Linked DNA regions of Homo sapiens. The protein of the gene in region 2 purifies or fractionates together with the protein of the main gene of each other region. This does not show direct contact. Each region holds a gene or a part of one and is shown on either strand. Other genes may lie near its edges. The genes, in order: GC, P2RX6, CP, SULT2B1, ITIH4, SDR16C5 and KLK9.

What was found.
Region 1: the proteins of P2RX6 (region 2) and GC purify together in Homo sapiens (affinity purification with mass spectrometry; one large-scale study listed by BioGRID and IntAct). This does not show direct contact.
Region 3: the proteins of P2RX6 (region 2) and CP purify together in Homo sapiens (affinity purification with mass spectrometry; one large-scale study listed by BioGRID and IntAct). This does not show direct contact.
Region 4: the proteins of P2RX6 (region 2) and SULT2B1 purify together in Homo sapiens (affinity purification with mass spectrometry; one large-scale study listed by BioGRID and IntAct). This does not show direct contact.
Region 5: the proteins of P2RX6 (region 2) and ITIH4 purify together in Homo sapiens (affinity purification with mass spectrometry; one large-scale study listed by BioGRID and IntAct). This does not show direct contact.
Region 6: the proteins of P2RX6 (region 2) and SDR16C5 purify together in Homo sapiens (affinity purification with mass spectrometry; one large-scale study listed by BioGRID and IntAct). This does not show direct contact.
Region 7: the proteins of P2RX6 (region 2) and KLK9 purify together in Homo sapiens (affinity purification with mass spectrometry; one large-scale study listed by BioGRID and IntAct). This does not show direct contact.

Annotation. Positions count from the first base shown.
Region 1 is NC_000004.12:71,777,580-71,781,079, reverse strand, and holds part of GC (vitamin D-binding protein isoform 1 precursor), read left to right. Parts: intron 1-3,500. UniProt on the Homo sapiens protein: Involved in vitamin D transport and storage, scavenging of extracellular G-actin, enhancement of the chemotactic activity of C5 alpha for neutrophils in inflammation and macrophage activation.
Region 2 is NC_000022.11:21,025,165-21,028,508, forward strand, and holds the end of P2RX6 (P2X purinoceptor 6), read left to right. Parts: intron 1-640; coding exon 641-734; coding exon of another isoform or gene 735-744; intron 745-846; coding exon 847-912; coding exon of another isoform or gene 913-1,087; coding exon 1,088-1,165; intron 1,166-1,255; coding exon 1,256-1,453; coding exon of another isoform or gene 1,454-1,562; 3' UTR 1,563-2,844; downstream 2,845-3,344. UniProt on the Homo sapiens protein: May act as a modulatory subunit rather than a functional channel. Unlike other P2XRs members, P2RX6 does not seem to form functional homotrimers.
Region 3 is NC_000003.12:149,208,330-149,211,829, forward strand, and holds part of CP (ceruloplasmin precursor), read right to left. Parts: intron 2,051-3,500; coding exon 1,838-2,050; intron 1,056-1,837; coding exon 882-1,055; intron 1-881. UniProt on the Homo sapiens protein: Multifunctional blue, copper-binding (6-7 atoms per molecule) glycoprotein. It has ferroxidase activity oxidizing Fe(2+) to Fe(3+) without releasing radical oxygen species. It is involved in iron transport across the cell membrane.
Region 4 is NC_000019.10:48,558,672-48,562,171, reverse strand, and holds part of SULT2B1 (sulfotransferase 2B1), read right to left. Parts: intron 1-3,500. UniProt on the Homo sapiens protein: Sulfotransferase that utilizes 3'-phospho-5'-adenylyl sulfate (PAPS) as sulfonate donor to catalyze the sulfate conjugation. Responsible for the sulfation of cholesterol.
Region 5 is NC_000003.12:52,817,173-52,820,672, reverse strand, and holds part of ITIH4 (inter-alpha-trypsin inhibitor heavy chain H4 isoform 1 precursor), read left to right. Parts: coding exon 1-42; intron 43-355; coding exon 356-382; intron 383-682; coding exon 683-733; intron 734-880; coding exon 881-919; intron 920-1,154; coding exon 1,155-1,280; intron 1,281-2,136; coding exon 2,137-2,211; intron 2,212-2,389; coding exon 2,390-2,416; intron 2,417-2,504; coding exon 2,505-2,621; intron 2,622-3,500. UniProt on the Homo sapiens protein: Type II acute-phase protein (APP) involved in inflammatory responses to trauma. May also play a role in liver development or regeneration.
Region 6 is NC_000008.11:56,310,176-56,313,675, reverse strand, and holds part of SDR16C5 (epidermal retinol dehydrogenase 2), read left to right. Parts: intron 1-1,387; coding exon 1,388-1,519; intron 1,520-3,500. UniProt on the Homo sapiens protein: Oxidoreductase with strong preference for NAD. Active in both the oxidative and reductive directions. Oxidizes all-trans-retinol in all-trans-retinaldehyde.
Region 7 is NC_000019.10:51,004,301-51,006,592, forward strand, and holds part of KLK9 (kallikrein-9 precursor), read right to left. Parts: coding exon 2,158-2,292; intron 1-2,157.

The DNA.
Region 1 (3,500 bases), on a different chromosome or scaffold from region 2:
AAGACATGAACTCATCCTTTTTTATGGCTGCATAGTATTCCATGGTCTATATGTGCCACATTTTTTAAATCCGGTCTATCATTGATGGACATTTGGGTTGGTTCCAAGTCTTTGCTATTGTGAATAGTGCCACAATAAACATACATGTGCATGTGTCTTTATAGCAGCATGATTTAAAATCCTTTGGGTATATACCCAGTAATAAGATGGCTGAGTCAAATGGTATTTCCAGTTCTAGATCCTTGAGGAATAGTCACACTGTCTTCCGCAATGGTTGAACTAGTTTACAGTCCCACCAACAGTGTAGAAGTGTTCCTGTGTCTCCACATCCTCTCCAGCACCTGTTGTTTCCTGACTTTTTAATGATTGCCATTCTAACTGGTGTGAGATGGTATCTCATTGTGGTTTTGATTTGCATTCCTCTGATGACCAGTGATGATGAGCATTTTTTTCATGTGTTTTTTGGCTGCATAAATGTCTTCTTTTGAGAAGTGTCTGTTCATATCCTTTGCCCACTTTTTGATGGGGTTGTTTGTTTTTTTCTTATAAATTTGTTTAAGTTCTTTGTAGATGCTGGATATTAGCCCTTTGTCAGATGGGTACATTGCAAAAAGTTTCTCCCATTCTGTAGGTTGCTGTTCACTCTGATGGTAGTTTCTTTTGCTGTGCAGAAGCTTTTTAGTTTAATTAGATCCCATTTGTCAATTTTGGCTTTTGTTGCCTTTGCTTTTGGTGTTTTAGACATGAAGTCCTTGTCCACACCTATGTCCTGAATGGTATTGCCTAGGTTTTCTTCTAGGGTTTTTATGGTTTTAGGTCTAACATTTAAGCCTTTAATCCATCTTGAATTAATTTTTGTATAAGGTGTAAGGAAGAGATCCAGTTTCAGCTTTCTACATATGGCTAGCCAGTTTTCCCAGCACCATTTATTAAATAGGGAATCCTTTCTCCATTTCTTGTTTTTGTCAGGTTTGTCAAAGATCAGAGGGTCGTGACACAGCTACAAAATTATTAAGGTAATCATGCCAACAGGAAATAAACCACTGCAGTTGATAAGAGCTGTTGGCAAAAAGAGGTTTTTATTATGAACATTTTCCTTTTTGCTTTAAGCATTTCATTCACAGCATTTTTTTTTATTAAACATGATATAAAACTGCAAGAAGAAAGTTCCCTTTGGGTTGGTGGGTGAGCTACACTTTTCCTTCTCTTCCTTCCCTGTCAAAACAGCCCTACGCAAGGGCTGAAGTCATACAGCTCTCATCACTGAGAGCAATGTTAACCTCCCTGAAAATCAATAGCAATGTTTCATCTTACTGATATCAGGTGCAATGCCACATATGCAGTCACCAATATGTAATATAAGGAGAAGTGTGCACACTCTGTAAAACACCACCAGCTTAATCTATTTAGGACAGGAGAAAATGAAGAAACCTCTAAAAGGAATTGATGATGCCCTTCCCCAGTATTTTTGGTCACCTAACTTCTTCATTCTACCCATTGCTTCTTCTCTCTCTCTCCTATTTTTCTCATTCATTCTGATCTGACCACACTGGCCTCCACATTATCTCACACTCTAAGTCCTTTGCACCCCAGGGCTTTGCATTAGTTCTTCTCTATTCCTAGAACATTGATTGTCCAGATATTCTCATAGCTCCCTTCCTCACCTTCTTCAGGCATCTACTCCAAGTCCATTTATAGAGGGGGCTTCCCTAGCCAACCTACCACAAATAACACCTACCAGTCCATTATCTTCTATCCCCTTATTTGGATTTATTTTTTCTTCTTAGCACCTAGTACCTTACCTTATCACTGGTTGTTCATTTGCTTATTGTAACAAATATAGAATGCAAGCCTTGTGAAATTAAGAACTTTTGTTATTTCCTGTAATTCCCAGTAATAGAACATTACTTGGCATTTAGTAGGTGTTCAAAAAATTATTGTGTAATATTACAAAATTGGGTTTTTGTATATGTATGTCTACCATCAGACTCAGGTTCCTTAAAGATTGGTGGCTTTAGAGTTTTCTTTCATATGATGCCATGCTCCCAGGAGATAGCTGATGTGTCTGTGTGTGTTTTTGTGTGTGTGTATAAATAGGTATGTACATAAATATATACACTCATATGTATAAAAATGATCATGAACTGGATTTAGCCAATAATAATAATAATAATAATAATAATAATAACTGACAGCAATATTCTGTTTCCTGAGGATACAATCTTCATTTTACAAATGAGAAAACTGAGGAAGAACAGAGAGGATAAGCAACTTGCCAGCGGTCTCACTATCACCTAGGGTAGCAGGAATTCAAATCCAGGTGGTCTGTATCCAAAGCCTCTATCTTAAATCATGATAAAATACATCCTCATATGGATGTTTTCTTTGGCCCTCATGGTTTGGGCCAACAAAGTTTCTTTAAGTCTGTCTTTAAAGTCTCATTTCACTTGTCAACATTTTAAAACCTGGAGATTCCACAAAAAAATCTAGATTTCTAGCTTCTCTGGAAACACAGGAATGTGTGGTAATAAGGGCCAAATTTTCACATGGCAATGATGAACTGGAGCTGAATTGTCACTCCTCCTTTTGGACTAAACCCTCAGTTTTCACCACTGAGCATTTAATGCTTTCTTCCCTTGGATCAAATGTAAGTTGTGTGGTTCCTAGATCCTATGAGCATTTGGGTTTGCTAACCTGGGTGTCATGGTAAAATAGTAACTTGAGGTTTAACACTACCTAAAGAAAATAATATTAACAAATAATTGTATCTTTACATTTAAAATAGGCAAAATAATTAGTTACCAGTCATTTTTATTCTCTATAAATGAAATCACATATGAATTGTTTAAATATGTTTACATTTAACAAATTGTGTTTTTCATCTTAGAGAAGTGAAACTTACATAACTTTTTTTTGAAAGCTGATTTAGAAAGATTTATTGGAATATACAAGGAGTGTTATGTAGTTATACATGTCTTTCACATTCATATCTGCTGATGCAGCTGAATTCCTATGTGGGTTTTATTTTGTTTTTTTTTATATATATATAAACTTTAAGTTCTGGAATACATGTGCAGAACCTGCAGGTTTGTTACATAGGTATACATGTTCCATGGTGGTTTGCTGCACCCATCAACCCACCATCTACAGTAGGTGTTTCTCCTAATGCTATTCCTCCCCTAGCCCTCAACCCCCGACAGGCCCCAGTGTGTGATGTTCCCCTCCCTGTGTCCATGTGTTCTCACTGTTCGACTCCCATTTATGAGTGAAAATATTTTTATATGGAAATAACTGTGATTTTTTTATCTATTAAAAAATACAATAGCAAGAGCACAGTCTTAGAATAACCATTTCAGTCTTCAAATTTTACTACACGAAAGTAAATTTGTTATTTTGATATTATCAGTTCTGCTGCAAATGTTAGGTAATAATTGGTTTTAAAATGAAAATACTTTTATTTGACAATTGCATACTAGATTTTAAAAAATATAAATAACAAA
Region 2 (3,344 bases):
GCCACTGTGCCTGGCCTCAAGTTTCATAAATTGCATTTATTATCATGTCTTTGAGTCTTCTAAGCAGATCTATTGGATCCTTCTGCCACCGAGCGTCACCTCGTCATGCAGGCAGGCACACACGACCACCAGGCCTGGGGATGATGCCCCTCAACATAGCTCACTGCACCCCGTCTGATCTGGCTTCCCCAACCTCCCCAGCCCTTCGAAACCACGTGGGGCTGGCTCCCACCCACATCCTGTTCCCCTGACCTCTGTGCTGGCAAACCACCTGTGTGCATGTTCCTTCAGGCCCAGCCTCATGTCCCCTCCAGGAAGTCTACCCCAGTTCCCAGGGAAGAGTGAGTTCCCATCTCTGGAATCCCTCAGCCCTGAGCCTGCCCCTTCACATCCCCCGCTGCTGGGTCTGTTTAGGGACTCCTCTGTCCCCCGTCCTCTCAGCAGGCAGGGAACTTCTGAGGGACAGGTCTTCGTTTGCTTTTTCTGTTTTCTCACCAATTACATAGGGCTGAGACCCAGGACTCAGGCTTGGGCTGGGGGTTTATAGAGTCAATTGACAAGTTGGACAGAGGTCTGGCAGGGCCAGCCCCACCTGGGGGTGGGCAAAGCAGGTCACCAGAGCCTTCTTTCCTGCCCACAGGACAGCCACTCACTGGTGGGAGCAACCGGGTGTGGAGGCCCGCACCCTGCTCAAGCTCTATGGAATCCGCTTCGACATCCTCGTCACCGGGCAGGTAGGCACAGGTAGGGGTCAGGCCGGGGATGGGATGGGGCAGGCAGACAGGGCTGGAGGAGGCATGAGGCTGACAGTCGTGGGCTGAGAGGTTCAGCTCAGATCTCTCTCAGGCAGGGAAGTTCGGGCTCATCCCCACGGCCGTCACACTGGGCACCGGGGCAGCTTGGCTGGGCGTGGTGAGTGCGAGCACTGTGGGCACCTGCAGGCTGCAGTGAGTGCTGCTGACCAGGGTGTGTCCAATGCATGCTGGAGCCTCCGGTGCCTGCACATTGAGTCTCGGGGTGCAGGCTGGGGAGGTGGCAGGAGAGCAGGCTCGGGGGCTGGAACATGGGTTGGCCCTGCCTCTCCCAGGTCACCTTTTTCTGTGACCTGCTACTGCTGTATGTGGATAGAGAAGCCCATTTCTACTGGAGGACAAAGTATGAGGAGGTGAGCTGAGGTCGCTCTGCTTGGACCCTGGGTTCTGCCACACTTAGGAAGATGTTGGCTGGATCCCTGACCTGCTGTCCTCATCTGCAGGCCAAGGCCCCGAAAGCAACCGCCAACTCTGTGTGGAGGGAGCTGGCCCTTGCATCCCAAGCCCGACTGGCCGAGTGCCTCAGACGGAGCTCAGCACCTGCACCCACGGCCACTGCTGCTGGGAGTCAGACACAGACACCAGGATGGCCCTGTCCAAGTTCTGACACCCACTTGCCAACCCATTCCGGGAGCCTGTAGCCGTTCCCTGCTGGTTGAGAGTTGGGGGCTGGGAAGGGCGGGGCCCTGCCTGGGGATCTCAAGGATGAGGCCCCAGCATGGAGGATTGGGGGTAGAATTCCACCCTTGAACCCCAGCAGACAGTCCCTCCCCTGACTCCCACCTTGGTAGGGTGCTGCCTCAGGGAGCCATAGAAGTCGGCTGTGTTTTGAGACGGCGACAGAACCTGACCCGTGGAGACTGGGAGAGCCCAGCAGGCACCTGTATTGCAGGGCTCCGACTGCATGTGGCAGGGGCTCCTGCTGCGTCTGGGCCTGGAGGTCTCTCTCCCAGTGCTCTGTCCCCAGTGTTCCTAGCAGAGGTATGCTTACCAGCTGTCAGCACAGACCCTCCTGCTGCCTGGGTCCTGGCCCTCCTCCCCCATCTGCACCCCCATCATAGGTAGAGACCCCACCCTCCCATCGGTCCTACATGGGGCTGTGCAGCTGGAGCCAAAAAGGCAAGGTAGAAAGAGGAGTGATGGGGGAGGGGGATTGTTTCAGCTTCTCTGGTGCTGTGATGCCCCAGGAGAGTCCTAATCTAGGGAATGGGGTGGAGTAGGCAGATAATCCACCTCCCTATCCCCCAGGCAAGGGCGGAGCATGTGTCTTGGGCCCACACCTGCTTAGTTTATGAGGACCGGCTGCTTTCCAGTGGTAGCCCTTTTGCCATGGAGGTCTGGGAGAGAGAGCAGAGGGCGGCAGGGCTAAGTTGGTGATCATTGGGTTCTTCAGGACCTTCTATATCCCTCCTCGGTAACCCCCCAGCCCAACCCCTTGGAATCTTTCCTCCAGGCTTCCTGAGAGCCCTGGGGGTGGGAGGCTGTGGGAGGCTGTACATCTGAAATTCACTTCAGTCCAAGTCATACCTAGGAAGCTGTCTGGGCAGCTGCTCGAGGGAGGCCCTGGCTCTGATCCCAGGCTGGATGGAGTGGCTGGAAGGAATGGTTCCAAACAACACCACCGAGATCTCCCTCAGGCTGGCCAGGTTTTGCAGCTGGAATTCTCCTCTTGGTCCCAGGGCGGGGCAGGGAATTCTAAGTGTCCACCCCAGGGAGGCAAGGGGCTGCTTTCCACTGTGGGTACCTGGTGATCAGGGCAAGCTGTGGAGGGCCAGGGGTGGGGCTGAGACTGGGCTGACATCTAGAATCACCTGCCACCTGGAGCCTCAGTAAAATGCCTGGGGTCCCTGCTGCCTCTCAATCTCCAGAGCCATGTCCATGGGGAGGTGGGCTCTGAAGGGCGAAGGTGGGAGAGCAGGGCCCCTGAGGCCTGGGTATCCAAGGAGGGGCACGTGCACCTGATTCTCCTTGGGGCCCAGAGGAAGCTGATGTCATGGCTGGACAAAGTCACGGAGTAAAGCCAGCAAAGCCACCCTCTTCCTGTGTAGTCCTTACAGGCATGACTGGAAAGTTGGGGGGCATCTATGGTAGACATGGCACAGCCATGAAGAGACCAGTGGGGTGGTGCAGGGTGGACTTGGGGACCCTACCCCTGAAGACTGAGGCCCTGCAGCTACCAGGTGGGCTAGAAGGTAACTGGAACAGGCCTGGGCACTTGTGCACCCATGTAGGAGCATGAGGGCCACACTCTTTTCACCTCAAAGCCCTTGAAGAGTGGGCAAAGACAGCAAGAGAGCTGCAGCCTGGGCCCGAGCTCAGAAACAGCTGTCGCCTCAGTCTGCGCACAGGCATGCACCCCAGGGTAGTGCCTGCAGGGATGCATGTGTCCCCGTGGGGGTGCCTGTGCCAGGCAGGCCTCAGGTGCATGCCATGCTCAGAACCCTGCTGCCCTTTCTAGGCAGCCTCCTTGGGGCCCAAGCTCTGCTCCCTGGATCTGCCACCTAGCAGACGTGGGGAGCCTGACCCCATGCC
Region 3 (3,500 bases), on a different chromosome or scaffold from region 2:
ACCAAATCAAACCTGCTCAGGCTAGAATTTTGAGTATCTTTTTATAACAACTATTTTTGTTAGTACACAACAGAGACAGGATTAAAGTATGGAAAGAGGACCTTCCACCCAGATATAAGTAAAAGTTGGAAACAAAATCTGTACTTTGTTAACTAGTTTATTTTTCTACTTTGGTAGTATCGTTATTTTTGTGCTCTCGGTTTCTGAGTACAGGTTATTTTGAAGAAGTTAAACACAAACAAATAAACGAAAATATCTACTTATTGGTCTAGTTGTTGTTAAGGGACTCTGTTTCTCATGCAAATTATGAGAAATAGATAATCTTACTAAGCTCATTATTTTGTGTCTGAGAATTAAGAAAAAGTCTAAACTGTAAAAAAAGCATTTCTAGAAAAGTAAAGTGAACTGAAATGTAGAAACGAATGATGCAGACTAAGGGGCCCAGTGAGGGCAACATAGTATGTAAAACGAATACCTTTCAGAACTCGTGGTTTGAACTATTTTCTTAAATATAGTTAGATGCTTTAAAATATAATATGGTTTTAAGCATTTAGTTTAATAATTTGGAGCTGCCTCAAATAATTTTTAGAATGAGTCTAGTGGATAAATAAATATATTAATGTCACATACATATGCATTAAACCATAATTGATGCTTTATCCTTACCAGTTGGGGAACAAGTTTGGTGTATCTGGCTTTACCTGGCTTAGAGTTTTTATTCTGACTTACTTAGCTGAATATCAAATTGCACATCCAATATGCTTTGTTATAAGGACCACAGACTAGACACACAGTACTTATTTATGTGAGGGAATAAGCTTAGCAGAATTAATGGATCAAGGGAAAAAAAAGTAAAGTTAACATGTCTGCTGTAATCTTACAATACATTCTGTTACTCTCCTGGAAGTCTTCGTTGTCTTTGTCAACTTTCTCTGGTTCTGAGCAGTAGGTTTTAATGTTGTCTTCTAGGTACCAGCTGAAATTTTCATCCACCACAGAAAACATCACCACAAATTCTCGGTCAATATGTTTTTCTTTTTCTTTATCTAGAGAATCTGGAGTTAAAGTTACTATTTTAGCAAGACTAAACTTTTAGCATGTATTTTGATTTATGTTTTCAGGTGATTTATAGTTTTTAAAAATGTTAGTATTTATTTTTTCGAATAAATCACAAGTCTGGACCAGTCACTCCTGTTTTACAGACAGAAACACTCAGGGAATTTTTATGATCAGTATCTGGTGCTTGGAAGACACTCCTGTGTCTGGATGTCCACTGACCACATAACTATTAAATGCTTTTTGGCAAATGGGAAGATTGGAATTCAAAGTTGTGCGTCTATTTTCTGGTGCATATAGCCACAAACAGAGACAAGTCTTTACAGGTAACGATTGTTCAAGTTAGAATTGTATTTCAGGCTCTTGAGCTCCGTTGTCTTTTTCATGATGTTAGAAATAAATACTATGATATTATGTTTACCAATATAGTATGAGTAACTACAGATCTATCACCGTGGAGTGCCCTTTTGGTAGTCACATTTGGTAAAGTCATATGTCTCTTCAGCACCACTGTTGGAAGTTAGATACAGCAAACTGAACCCTGAGAGAATATATTTCTTTCACATTACCTTCATTGGCATTTTCCCCGTAGGAATGCTTGTTCTATTTATCCCTTCTTCTCCTAGTCCTGCCTGGCTCTTCCCTTCCTTTTTTTCTACTTACCACCTCTCTACCTTACCTGCTCAATCTCAGCACAGAAGACTTGATTTCTTTTTAAAAGACAAACTGCCCTGCCCCTGTCTTTTGGTCATATAGCATGTGCAATAAGGAGAAGATGTACCTTTTTTACAGATTATTAAAGGTCCGATGAGTCCTGAGGCAATATCTTTTGGAGCATCAATGTGGGAATGGTAAATCCTAGTCACACAATTGCCATCTCCTTCCCCAGGACTTTGTTCTTCAGTGGCAAGCAACATGTATGTATACTGCTCTCCTGGATATACTTTGTCATCTGCTCTTTGAAAATCTGTGGTGTTATCAGGGTAGATGGCCCCTAGGAAGCAACATGCAATGAAGGTGCAAAGTGAATGTGTTTGAACTTAAATGAGAGAATAGATAGTCCATTAATTCATTCAGCAAACATTTATTAAACATCTACTATGTGATCCTTGGGGATGTGTTATCCTATTTGGACACAGGAAAATGAAAGGCTAATGGCTAGGGTGTGTAGAAGCTTCACAGACATTTTTATTATTTTTTTATATTTGATTGGGTTTTCAGAGAGCATAATGACTTTTTGTTTGCAATGTAAAGAACTCGGGTCATGGTATGGGAGTCTGAGCAAAAAGGCTACCCTCTTCTAAATTCAAAACTTCTTATATGATCTCAGATTTTTGCCCACGAAGTAACCATAAAATTAAAAACATTTCTACTCTCAATTTTGGAAATTTCCAAACACACACAAAGGTTGAGAGAAGAAAATGCTGAACCTCTGTGTACCCATCAAACCAGCTTTAACAATGATCGACTCAAGGCCAACCTTGTTTCATCTGTACCCCCACACACTCTTATCCCCAGTATCATCAAATTATTTTAAAGCACGTCTCAGACATCATATTCCATTCATAAATACTTGAGTATGTATCTCTAAAAGATAGGAACCCTTTTTTTCTTCTAACAAAACCACAGTTCCATTACCATACCTTTAAAATGAATGGTAATTCCCTAGTAAGCCATGAAATCATTAAAAAGAAATAGGATGGCAGTCAGCCTTTTATGCTATGAATGTAATTTATCCCTAAACAACAACAAAAACAAAAAAAGTCAACACATTCACTTTCTAAACCAATATCTCTTTTAATAAGACAACTAATAATGAATCAAATCTAATTTTAAATTAATTTCCCTATTCGATCATTATAATTTCAATGAACTGTAGCATGACTTCAGCATTTTTGCTTATGATAGCAGCTGATAGTTATTGAGGTATTACTATGTATTCTTATTATCTCTATTTTATAGATGAGGAAACTGAAGCTGAAAGAACTTAAGTAATTTGTCCAAGGTCACTCAAACAGTGAAAGGCAAGGCTGGGGCTCAGACCTTTGTCTATTAATTTCAAAGCCCTTGCTTTTCATCACTACAAAATACCACCTTTTTTACCATCATTGTTAAGGACTAAGAATGAGATCACAGGCACCAAACCTTATCTTTGTTTTTCAGGTACTATTTTCAAGGCTTCCAAGTCCTACATTCAAATGACTTTTTCAGTTAATTGTGTCTCATATGTGACTACAGTCATCCAGGCATATGTACCATTTGACTGACATGAGACTACTTATGCCACCTTAGCTGGGGCAGAGTTTATATAAAGTTAGGATGGGAGGTAACAACAGCACAGTATGTTTACATGTAGGAACTTCAAAGATAAGGCAATCCACATCTTGAGTCCTTCTTTCTCTTCCCTCTGGATTTTGCCTCTTCTAGGCTCTGATGCACTTTGT
Region 4 (3,500 bases), on a different chromosome or scaffold from region 2:
CAGGTGATCCGCCCGCCTCAGCCTCCCAAAGTGTTGGGATTACAGGCATAAGCCACCACACCTGACCTAATTTTTGTATTTTTAGTAGAGACAGGGTTTCGCCATGTTGGTCAGGCTGATCTCAAAACTCCTGATCTCAAGTGATCCTCCTGCCTTGGCCTCCCAAAGTTCTGGGATTGCAGGCGTGAGCAATGAGCCCGGCTAATTATTGTGTTTTTAGTAGACATGGGGTTTTTGCCATGTTGACCAGGCTGGTCTTGAACTCCCGACCTCAGGTGATCCACCTGCCTCAGCCTCCCAAAGTGCTGTGATTACAGGCATGAGCCACTGCACCCAGCCAAGGCCCATTTTGGAGAAGAGGGGAGTGGGGCTCTGGGATGTAGAGCATCTCACCCACATCTGCCTGATGGGGAACACACGTTAGGTTCGAGGTCCCTGGCTCTGTCCCTTGAAGCCTGACAGTCTCACCGCAGGCCCTGCCCATCCGAGTCCCACTGTAGCTGGGCTGCCAGTGTTCCGTTCTCACTGTCCAGTTTGGCTTGTTCCCTGAATGTCGCATGCTCCACTACACCGTGGAACCGCACCCTGCACGACGCCTGTCGCCTGGGGCTCTTCACTTTTTTTCTCTCCTCCTTTCTCTCAAACACCTCCTCTCTCTCTCCCTTCCAGCATACCTTTATTATTTATTTATTTTATCTTAATTAATTTATTTATTTTATCTATCTATTTATTTATTTATTTTGAGACAGTGTTTCACTCTTGTTGCCCAGGCTGGAGTGCAATGGCACGATCTCGGCTCACTGCAACCTCTGCCTCCCGGGTTCAAGCGAGTCTCCTGCCTCAGCCTCGCAGAGTAGCTGGGATTACAGGCATGTGCCACCACGACCAGCTACTCTTCTATTTTTAGTAGGACGGGGTTTCTCCATGTTGGTCAGGCTGGTCTGGAACTCCCCACCTCAGGTGATCCGCCTGTCTCGGCCTCCCAAAATGCTGGGATTACAGGCATGAGCCACCACACCGGGCCCGAATTTATTTTTTTGAGACAAGATCTTGCTCTGTCTCCCAGGCTGGAGTGCAGTGGTGCGATCTCAGCCCCACAGCAACCTCCGTCTCCTGGGTTCAAACAATCCTCCTGCCTCAGCCTCCCGAGTAGCTGGGATTACGGGCGCCCACCACCACACCTGGCTAATTTTTATTTTTTTTATTTTTGAGACGGAGTTTTGCTCTTGTTGCCCAGGCTGGAGTGCAATGGCAGGATCTTAGCTCACTGCAGCCTCTGCCTCCCGGGTTCAAATGATAGGCCCACCTCGGCCTCCCAAAGTGCTGGGATTACAGATGTGAGCCACCACGGCTGTCCTAATTTCTGTATATTTACTAGAGATGGGGTTTCACCATGTTGGCCAGGCTGGTCTCGAACTCCTGACCTCAAGGGATCCACACGTCTCGGCTTCCCAAAGTGCTGGGATTATAGGCATGAGCCACCACGCCCAGCCTCATTGACAGTTTTTGAAATTGACTATATGTGGAAATGATATTTCAGATAGATTAGATATGTGATTAAAATTAATTTCACTTGTTTCTTTTGTTTTTTTAAAAAGGTGGCTACGAGAAAATGTTTTCCTATGGGCTCACGGTATATATCTATGGAGGGTGGCCAGGGTCATGGAAACCATAAGGGTGACAAGTCCCCCCGAGAAGAAATGGCCACTGAGGGGCAGCCTCTGACTGCAGTTCCAAGCCCCTGTTGGATTCCTTTCTCTGGCATGAGGGTTATGAGTGGGGCCTCAGTTTTCCCATCTGTAAAATGGGCATTGTAACACTGGGACCACACAGGGCTGTTGTGAAGACTCAGTGAGCTCATCCCCACACAGCCTTCAGCACAGGGCCTGGCTCAGGGCAGATGCTCAGGAAGCTCATCATTATTATCATTCCTCACCCATCCCCTCCCTTGCTAGCATTCGAGTTTCTGGCTCAGCAGCGGTCTCAGAACTGGGGAAGGAGGAAAGAGAGAAACAGCACAAATGCTGAGTCAGCTGCGAGCCCAGGTCAGGCCCTTCCCCGGTCATTGCCCGTTTCACAGACGCTCAACCCTGAGGGCAGTCCTTTCTACCAGGAGGGTCCCAGCTCCTGAGCCATAGGGGCGGCATTCGAACCCAGGACTGCCTTCCTGTGGGCATTCTTCTTTTCTTTTTAATTTTTTTTTTTTTTTTTTAAAGAGAGATGAGGGTTTGCTATGTTGCCCAGGCTGGTCTTGAACTCCTGGCCTCAAGCAATCCTCCTGCCTTGCCCTCCCAAAGTGTTGGGATTACAGGCGTGAGCTGTGGCACCTGGCCCCTGCAGGCTTTCTTGCCTGCGGTGTCACGGTCCCCACTTTCCCAGATCCTTGGGGCTCTGGTCCCCACGTAAGTAACTGGCCACACCTCTCTTAGGGCCTCCACTCCAGGCCTCCGGGCAAGGCGAGGGTCTCCCTTCTCAGCCTGGCATTTATTCCATGTCATGGGTGACCCACTGGGTCCCACAGTTCCTCCTCCAGACCCTCTGGGTGGCAAACTGGGCTGCTTAGTTCTTTCCAAATGGGTCCTGAACTCAGCTGGCCAGCATGGCGAAACCCTGTCTTTATCAAAAATACAAAAATTAGCTAGGCATGGTGGCACATGCCTGTAATCCCAGCTACTTGGGAAGCTGAGGCAGGAGAATCGCTTGAACCCAGGAGGCGGAGGTTGCAGTGAGCTAAAATCACGCCACTGCTCTCCAGCCTGGGCGACAGAGCAAGACTCTGTCTCCAAAACAAAACAAAACAAAACAAAACAAAACAAAACAAAAAACAAAACCAAATGGGTCCTGAACTCTGAACATCACCACTTCCAACCTTTCCTCTGCCAGTCCGTACACAGGCCCACCAGGCACAACTGCCTCCCCCCACCCCAAAGAGCGAGTGGAAAGGAAAACGCATCCTGTCCCTCACTCTTCAAGGCTGAGTCCCTCGTCAGGGGCTGGGTGGAGAAGGAGGGAACCGTGAGCATCTTTTTCCACTTCTCCCCAAGTCCCCGCATCCGCTAGTGCTGGCCCCGAAGCCCCTCTCCCTAGTCTGCCTGCCCAAATCTCACCCAGCGGGGAGGCAATGCCTTATTATTTCTTAATTGTTTGAAACCCCTTGATCAGCCCGTCTCAGAAAAAGCAGCTTCAGGCCAGTCGCGGTGGCTCACACCTGTAATCCCAGCACTTTGGGAGGACGAGGCGGGTGGATCATCCGAGGTCAGGAGTTTGAGACAAGCCTGACCTATATGGTGAAACCCTGTCTCAACTAAAAATACAAAAATTTAGCCAGGCGTGGTGGCGCACGCCTGTAGTCCCAGCTACTCAGGAGGCTGAGGCAGGAGAATCGCTTGAACCCCGGAGGCGGCTGTTGCAGTCAGCCGAGATGGTGCCACTGCACTCCAGCCTGGGCAACCAGAGTGAAACTCTGTCTCAAAAAAAAAAAAAAAAAAAAAAGAAAAGAA
Region 5 (3,500 bases), on a different chromosome or scaffold from region 2:
ACCAAGAGCAGTCTCAAGTTGCTGAGAAGCCCATGGAAGGCGGTGGGTGTGGGGTTGAGATCTCAGCCTCCCAGGTAGCAGAGTTTGGACCCAGCGTTCTCCCCGATCTTCCCTGCATCCTGACCAAGACCCCAACCGTGCCCCCAACAGACTCCCCCTGGGAGATTCAGCCTATTCACTGATGAGGAAAGTGAAGCCGGGTCTCCTGTCTCCCCAAATTCATTGCACCTACGATATAGTCCAGGATTGGGTAGCAAGATTAAACACAAGCGCTTCAAATTGATGAAAACCACCCTGACGGTGTCTGTCTGTGTCTCTGTCTGTCTGTCTCTCTCTCTCTCTTTGTTTTATCCAGAAAGTAGAAACAGGAATGTCCACTCAGGTAAGCAGCGAACATCCTCAAAGGCTGTGCTGGGTGGTGGTCTGCTAACACAGGGTCCAGGGCACCAGCCCTGTGAGGTTGCTGGCCAGGGCCCAGGTCCACCCAGGCCTCTCCAGCCCATCCCTGCTGCCAGGAGGCAGTGTAATCTGACCCAGCATGCTGGTGCATTTAGTCGCCTGTGCATTCAAATATTGGCTGTGCCTCAGGCCCTGTCCCCAGCACTAAGAATACAGTCCCCATCCAAGTGGGGCCACAGGAAGGTGGGTGCAAGATGCAAACCCAGGTCCCACTGATTTCCAGGTTCCACTTTCTTCAAATATTATCTCCAGGGAGCAAAAATACCAAAACCAGGTGACAAAGTAGGAGGTGGGGGGAGGGGAGATTGACAGATTGGGCTCAGTCCTGGCTGTGGAGGGTAGTGCCTTGCCCAGCTCCTCTGGCTGGTGACAGCCCTCGGGCCTCAGTTCAGTTGTATCTGATCAGGACTTGACCACACAGAGGCTTCCTTTTCTCCAAGAAGAGGATGGAATAGACAAGGTAGTTTGAGGGTTTCTGCCAGGGGGAGGCATGACATCCCTGGGGGGGAGCTTGAGGGAGGTCCATTATTGTTCATCTCCCAGCTGTTGGGGGAGAGGCTCCCCAAGTTGGCCGGGTGTGGGGAGAGGGGACATAGCTGCCCTCTCCGCACCCACTCCTGGGTGGATCTCAAGCCCTGGCTGTGAAGACCCACACCCCACCTGAGAGAAGACTGCATCTGTCGATTTCTCCAAAGCTGGAGCTGCTGGCTCCCGGATGAATTTCAGACCTGGGGTTCTCAGCTCCAGGCAACTTGGACTCCCAGGACCTCCTGATGTTCCTGACCATGCTGCTTACCACCCCTTCCGCCGTCTGGCCATCTGTAAGCTGCCTTCCGGCCCTGCGAGGGCCTCGGTTTCCCACGGTGGTCCTTGAGCCTGCCCCATAGAGGGGGGTGGGGTAAAGCACGCACCACAGGGCCAGGCCAGGGACGGCTGCTGAGGGCACGATGTGAAGTAATTGTGGGTCAGTTCAACCTGGGATCATTTACTGGGGCTGGGGTGGGAGTGCATTTCCTAAGGAGGCTGTCCTCGCCTTCCCAGCTCTTTGCAGCTGCCCCCTGCCCCATCCTTAGCGTCTCATCTCCTCAGATGCGAGCTCACCCGGGTCCTTTAGCTGCCCCTAGGTTGTCAGACCACAGGCCATGACAGAGCAGCCTCTCCCACACTCCTTGTTCAGAGGGGACCCTAGGCCCTAAGAGGGGCACGGACTGGCCAAGCATGCACATCACAGCGCTCTTTGGAGCAGTCCTTGCCAGCTTCCTCTCTCTGAAGGCCCCTCTCCCCACTACCCAGTGTATGGACATCAGGCCTCCCCTCCCCAAGGCAGGACTTCACCTGTCCTTTACTTTCACTGAGTAGGATCCACTATACTCTAGAGGCTGACTCATGAGGAAACCTTCTAGGAAGGGAGGGCTTCCTCCGTTCAGAAAGCCAACAGAGGTCCCTTGAACTGTTTTCTGATCCCCAAATCTGCACTCGAATGCAGCTGCACAGCCAGGCTGGACCTATCCCTGACAGCATGCTCTTCTGTTTGAAAATCTCCTGTGACAAAGGCCATTCTAGGTGGAGTGTATGTGTGGCAGGATGGGGGGCTGGAGCTTGGTGGCAGCGCTGCTGGTTGCCCGCCTCCTGACTGCCTTCCTGCTCCCTTTCTGTTTCCGGATGTTCCTGCCCTAGTGCCTGCTTCAGCACCACCAGCCACCTCAAATCCTGATCCAGCTGTGTCTCGTGTCATGAATATGAAAATCGAAGGTGCCCCCAAGGCCAGAGGCCCTGTCCTAACAGGGGGATCCTGGGAGGGGAGTGACCTGTCACATGTCTCGATGTTGAAGTAGTGAGGGAACCCAGCCACACCTAGTCACTGCTCCCTCCCTCAACCTCCCACTCCTCAGGAAGGGGCTGCCTAAACCCAGACTTTTTCTTCTTTTAGAAACAACCATGACAACCCAAACCCCAGGTAAGTTCCCAGCCCCCTTGGCCCCTTTCCACATCCTTGCCCCCAGCCTGCCCTTCCTGCTCCAGGAGCCGTGCCCCGGCTGTCCCAGCCCCCATACAGGCTCCCTCTGCCATCCTGCCACTGCCTGGGCAGAGTGTGGAGCGGCTCTGTGTGGACCCCAGACACCGCCAGGGGCCAGTGAACCTGCTCTCAGACCCTGAGCAAGGTGAGAGAGGCACACCCAGAGAGACCCAGACACCACTGGCACACACCCACCACCTGCCTACAGAGACACACACAGCGCGTGCAGGCTGGCCCCACACAGGCCCCTCCCAGATCATAGCATGGTCCTGCCTCCCAGTGCTGGCATGGGCACACACTCACACAGACACCCCGGGGACCTTCCACTGGGCACCTTGTGTGCAGGTGTGGGTGGCCAAGGCACAGATAAGCATGGCAGCCATGTGGAGGTGAGCCTAGAGGAGGAGCCAGGGTGGGGCAAGGGTCAGGGGAGCTGCCTGGGGTCACACAGGGATGGCAGGGCCATGGCGGGTGCACAGAGACCAGCATGAGGATGTTCCAGATGATGGAGGAGTTAGTGCCTGCAGAGTACAGAGCCCCAAAAGATGAGACCTAGAAGGTGTGGATGAGGGGAATGGCAGGAAGAGACAGGGGTGCTGGCTGGGCCCTGCCCCTTCAATCCTGGACCAGACATGGGGACACACTCCACTCAGCAGTGCTCACCCCCGCACCGCCCAGCCCCGCTCAAAGCCAAGGGACATCCATGGCTTTCTCATTCCTCAGATGCATGTGTCACCCACTTCCTCACTCAGGCTAGGAATGTCTTTCCTGAGGGCAGGGAGCACCAATTCTCCATCTTACCCTTGGCCGCGGCATCTAGCTCAGGGCCAGGCGCTCCATGGGGCGTTCTGAAGGCTTATTGACTGGAGACAAGTTAATTCTCAAAGGCCTCAACTGAGGGTGGCCGTCGCCGAGGATTTAGGGGCCCCTCCAAAGCCTTAGACACCAAGGGACAAGTGGAGAGATTGTGGGAGCCAGCCCCCAGTGTGAAGGAGTGCTGAGAAAGGGGCACCCCTCCTGATGA
Region 6 (3,500 bases), on a different chromosome or scaffold from region 2:
TAATGACATTTTGGTCAGTGATGGACCATATACAAAATGGTGGTCCCACATTATGGGACAGATTATTACAGTATTTTTACTGTCCCAATGTTCTATGATTAGATACACAAATACTTAACCAATGTGTTAACAGTTGCCTACAGTGTTCAGTATAGTAACACACTGTACAGGTGGGTAGCCTAGGAGCAATAGGCTCTACCATATGGCCTAAGATGTGTAGTAGCCACACATCTAGGTTTATTAAGTACACTCTGTGATCTTCACATAGCAACCAAGTCACCTAACAATGCACTTCTCAGAATGTATCTCCATTGTTAAGTGATTTATGACTGTACTTTCTCTTTTCCTCTATTTATTCCCTAATCCAGCCCCTTCTCCGTGTGTGAGGTCTTGATCTATGTCACATTTGGCTATAATGAAGCTATTCTTATGTCCCATCATATTGATTAAAATGAAATGCCACATACAGAGCACAGAACAAAGTTACTAACCACTGAGTAGAAGAACAGCTCTAACTGTAAACAGAAAGTAGCATTTTGAACATGGACTCATTTTAAGAAGAGAAAAATGGGAAAAGCACATCAAAACTTGATCTCTGGAGGTCAGGCGCAGTGGCTCATGCCTGTAATCCCAACACTTTGGGAGGCCAAGACGGGTGGATCATGAGGTCAGGAGATCGAGACCATCCTGGCTAACACGGTGAAAACCTGTCTCTACTAAAAATACAAAAAATTAGCCGGGTGTGGTGGTGGGCACCTGTAGTCCTAGCTACTTGGGAGGCTGAGGCGGGAGAATGGTGGGAACCCAGGAGGCGGAGCTTGCAGTGAGCCAAGATCGTGCCACTGCACTCCAGCCTGGTCGACAGAGCAAGACTCCATCTCAAAAAAAAAAAAAAAAACTTGGTGTGTGGTGCATTGTAGACTCAGCAATGGAAATAAACCAACCTGTATTTATTTCTTTATTTATTTTTTTAGATGCAGTCTCACTCTGTCACCCAGGCTGGAGTGCAGTGGTGTGATCTTGGCTCACTACAACCTCCACCTCCCTGGTTTAAGCAATTCTCCTGCCTCAGCCTCCCGAGTAGCTGGGGCTAGAGGCACGCATCACCATGCCTGGCTAATTTTTGTAATTTTAATAGAGACAGGATTTTGCCATGTTGGCCAGGCTGGTCTCAAACTCCTGTCCTCAAGTCACCCCCCTGCCTCGGCCTGCCAGAGTGCTGGGATTACAGGTGTGAGCCACTGCGCCTGGCCCCAAGCTGTATTTTTAGAGTGCATAAACTCAGTATGAATTAACCAGGATAAAAAAAACATAAAACTCTGGGAAAATAAAACCTAGCCCATGTAAGGAATTACTACATTGGTGGTGTTGCTCTTATTCAATTCAGGTTAAAAAAGAAGTCGGCGATGTTTCCATCCTAATCAACAATGCCGGAATCGTAACAGGCAAAAAGTTCCTTGACTGTCCAGATGAGCTTATGGAAAAGTCATTTGATGTGAATTTCAAAGCACATTTATGGGTAATAATTGTTTCTTCTCATCATAAATGTAAAATTATTCTGGCATTTGGAAGTATTTTCCTCTTGCTCTTTTACAATATTATTAGCCTCTAAGTAAAGCAGAGACTTCTCAGTTTTGGACTTGTCCTGTTCTACACAGTTGTCCTTTTCTGATGCCACTTAATCTACAGCCCCCAGGACCTCTGCTTAGGGAATTCTACAAGGACAGAACTGTCCTCATGGTCCTGCTACCATGTATTGATTAGCTGCAAATGTTAGGAAATACTCCAGGTGGCTCACATATTTTCCTTAAAACAGCTCGGTGAGATAAGGGATCATAGAACTTAAAAGATTTGCTCCAGGCTACATAGCGAGCAACTGCACTTAGACAGGACCAGGGTAGCTTTGTAATTTGCCTAAGCTGGGACACTTTTGGAAGTGAAATTCAGCATTATTAATGAGCAAGTGTTAATCAGGTCTGTTATGGGCAAACCAAAACCTATAGTCACCTTAGTTAGTACCCAACCAGAGAAATTAGAGGTTCCACTGGTAACCCAGGTTACCACCTGCTACCAGCGCTAAAAGCACAGTCCTGACTTCTAAAGCCACCCACTCAATTCCAGAAGTTGCATGTTTCTGGCCTTTGCTGAGACCAGCCATCTCAGGCCTCCCCACACTATGCATGCACCCTCTTGCTGCCTCTCCCAGCTTTTATTAAAAGTTGTATTTTTATTTTACTTTATCATTTTATTTTAATTTTTTGAGACAGAGTCTCATTCTGTCTCCCAGGCTGGAGTTCAGTGGTGTGATCTCAGCTCACTGCAACCTCCAACCTCCCGGATTCAAGCGATTCTCGTGCCTCAGCCACCTGAGTAGCTGGGATTACAGGTGCGCGCCACCACACCCAACTAATTTTTTGTGTTTTTAGTAGAGACAGGGTTTCACCACATTGGCCAAGCTGGTCTTGAACTCCTGGCCTCAAGTGTTCCGCCTGCCTTGGCCTCCCACAGTGCTGGGATCACAGGACTTTTGACCTGTTTGGTTCCAGCCCTGCTCGTAGCTCGTCATTCCTGGGCAAGGCTCTCTCTTGGGAGTCTTTGCTGGAGATTTCTGAGCTCCTCCTCCATTCTCCTCACACCTTTCCACCCAAGTCTTCTTTAGCAGCCTTCAAATGTAATTTGGAATTTGTAGATTTTCTGTCCCCTATTTCCACCAAAAATGTAATGGTGCTGGTGCTATTCTTGGTGTTTTGTAAAGTTTTCAGGAGAAAAATGGAAAGATTCAGAATTTAGTGGCTACCATGTTCCTACAAGAACTACTGCAAATGATTTATCTTGTCCCAAATGTCCCTCTCCTTGGTGCTTGCTTATACTCATATATAGTCAGAATGAAGATAAAGACCATGGTCCCTGGAAGTCTCCACTCCCATGGCTTTGTGTTCTTTTTCTTTTTTTTTTTTTTGAGATAGAGTATCACTTTGCCGCCAGGCTGGAGTGCAGTGGCGCGATCTCGGCTCACTGCAACCTCCACCTCCCGGGTTCAAGCAATTCTCCTACCTCAGCCTCCCAGGTATCTGGGACTATGGGCGCACGCCACCACACCCAGCTAATTTTTGTACTTTTAGTAGAGACAGGGTTTTGCCATGTTGGCCAGGCTGGTCTCCATCTCTTGACCTTGTGATCCGCCCGCCTCAGCCTCCCAAAGTGCTTGGATTACAGGTGTGAGCCACTGCGCTTGGCCTGGCTTTGTGTTCTTTTCCTACCTCTCTGTTTTTCCCCAGGTGCCTTCATGGTGTCTGTCTCTCTCTTTTCTTCTTTTCTTCTTCTTCCTCTTCCTCCTTCCTCCTCCTCCTCCTTCCTCCTCCTCCTTCCTCCTCCTCCTCCTTCCTCCTCCTCCTCCTTCCTCCTCCTCCTCCTTCCTCCTCCTCCTCCTTCCTCCTCCTCCTCCTTCCTCCTCCTCCTCCTTCCTCCTCCTCCTCCTTCCTCCTCCTCCTTCCTCCTCC
Region 7 (2,292 bases), on a different chromosome or scaffold from region 2:
TGCACTCCAGCCTGGGAGACAGAGCAAGACTCCGTCTCAAAAAAAAAAAAAAAAAAAAAAAAAAAAAAAAAAAAAAGAAAGGAAGGAAGAGAAACAGAAAGATGCATGCAGAGAGCCAAGAGATAAGAGGAGATGCATATATAACTCCCTAGCACTTTGGGAGGCTGAGGCGGGCGGATCACAAGGTCAAGAGATTGAGACCATCCTGGCCAACATGGTGAAACTCCGTCTCTACTGAAAATACAAAAAATCAGCTGGGCATGCTGTTGCACACCTGTAGTCCCAGCTACTCGGGAGGCTGAGGCAGGAGGATCACTTAAAACCCAGGAGGTGGAGGTTGCAGTGAGCCGAGATCACACCACTGCACTCCAGCCTGGGCAACAAGAGCAAGACTCAGTCTCTTAAAAAAAAAAAAAAAAGAAATAGAAAAAGACCCAGACCTCAAGGGGTGGAATGAAGGCAGTGAGATAAAAGGAAAGAGATTTGCAGGAAGATGGTCACTGATGGAGACAGAGACATAGACAGAGATACCAGATACAGTGTAGTCAGTATAGATGTGGATATGGATATATAATACACATGTGCATCTATATAAGACATGGGTGCAGGCTCCGATGCATCAAGGGATATGATAAACAGAATTGGTAAACAGAAGTCGGGGACGGGGGCTGTGCAGGGAGACAGGAGCCATTTGGGTCCATTGGAGTGAATCAGAGAACTTATCTTGGCTGAAGGGGGCAGCCTCCATTGACTCAGCCCAATGCTTGCTATTTTGGGAATGTGAGTTCTTCAAACTTTTTCAGGTGAATCCAGAAACCTGGCTTTTGTATAAAACTTTCCAAGTTTTAGATATTGGCAGCAACAAATTCAGACTGTTTTTCCAATCCACTGACCCAATTTGGCTAATGGGTCAGTGATCCGTGACTCTGAGAGACATGGTCTTATTCCCATTCTAAGATGAACGCATTTCACATTTAAACATCTCTGGGCCAGGTACAGTGGCTCACACTTGTAATCTCAGCACTTTGGGAGGCCAGGAGTTTGAGACTAGCCTGGACAACATAGCAAGACCTCATCTTTGCTAAAAATAATAAAAATTTTTAGCATAAGGCTTAAGTTAAAGGAGGTCCCATCATGGAGCAATGCATGATGGGAAATTCCCACCCAGCATCTTTTACCAGAATCAGTGCTTTATTCATGGAGGGAAGAAAATTGGAACAGTATGGATGGTCACTTTTCAGAGGCAATGGAGAGAGGATTCCTGCATCAGGTGGATTCCAGGATACTATTAGAATGCCCAGAATCTAAGATTCTAGAATTCTCAGATTCTGACACACTAGTATCCATGATTCTAGAATCTAGAGGCTCAACGTTTAGAGTTTTATGAATCCAAGATTCTAACATTCCAGATTCCCCTGGATCAAAAAACTCCAGGATTCTAACATTATCTGAATTAAATCTAAGATATGACTAGATTTAAAAAAGACTAGAATTTTGGCTGGGTGCAGTGGCTCATGCCTGTTTTCCCAGCACTTTGGGAGTCCAAGGCGGGCAGATCACCAGGTCAGGAATTTGAGACCAGCCTGGCCAATATGGTGAAACCTCTGTCTCTACTAAAAATACAAAAAAAAAGATAATAATAATAATAATAATAAATAATAAAAAAATGACCCCGGTGTGGGATGTGGTGGTGCATATCTGTAATCCCAGCTACTTGGGAGGTTGAGGCGAGAGGATCACTTGAGCCCAGGAGTTCAAAGCTGCAATGAGCCGTGATCACACCGCTGCACTCCAGCCTGAGCAACAAAGCGAGACCCTGTCTCAAAAACAAACAAACAAACAAACAAACAAACACTCTGAAATTAGAATGTGTCTTCCAGAAAATGGTGTTATATAATCAATGGGATCTAATGGGATCTTTCCTCCTCCTCCTTTTTTTCTTCTCCTCCTCCTCCTTCTTCCACTTCTTCGCAGTTCATGAAATAATGGCACATCTTAAAAATGCTAGCATCTTATATTTGGTTAAATATATCGATTGGCAGATAGATAGACTGACAGAGAGAGAGAGGAGAGAGAAAAGGAGAAGACAGAGATGAAAAGGCAGAGACAGAGGGGTGAGGGAGCAAGTTTCAGAGAGAGTTCTGGGCCAGGTCATACCCTTGGGGCTGGACACGGCCCCCCAGCCTGAGATGAGACACTGCATGCCTGGGGAGACACAGGTCTGGCTGAGGTTGAGGGGCTGCACAGCAGGACTCAGACGTGCCTGCCTGGGCAGGCGGATCAGCATGATGT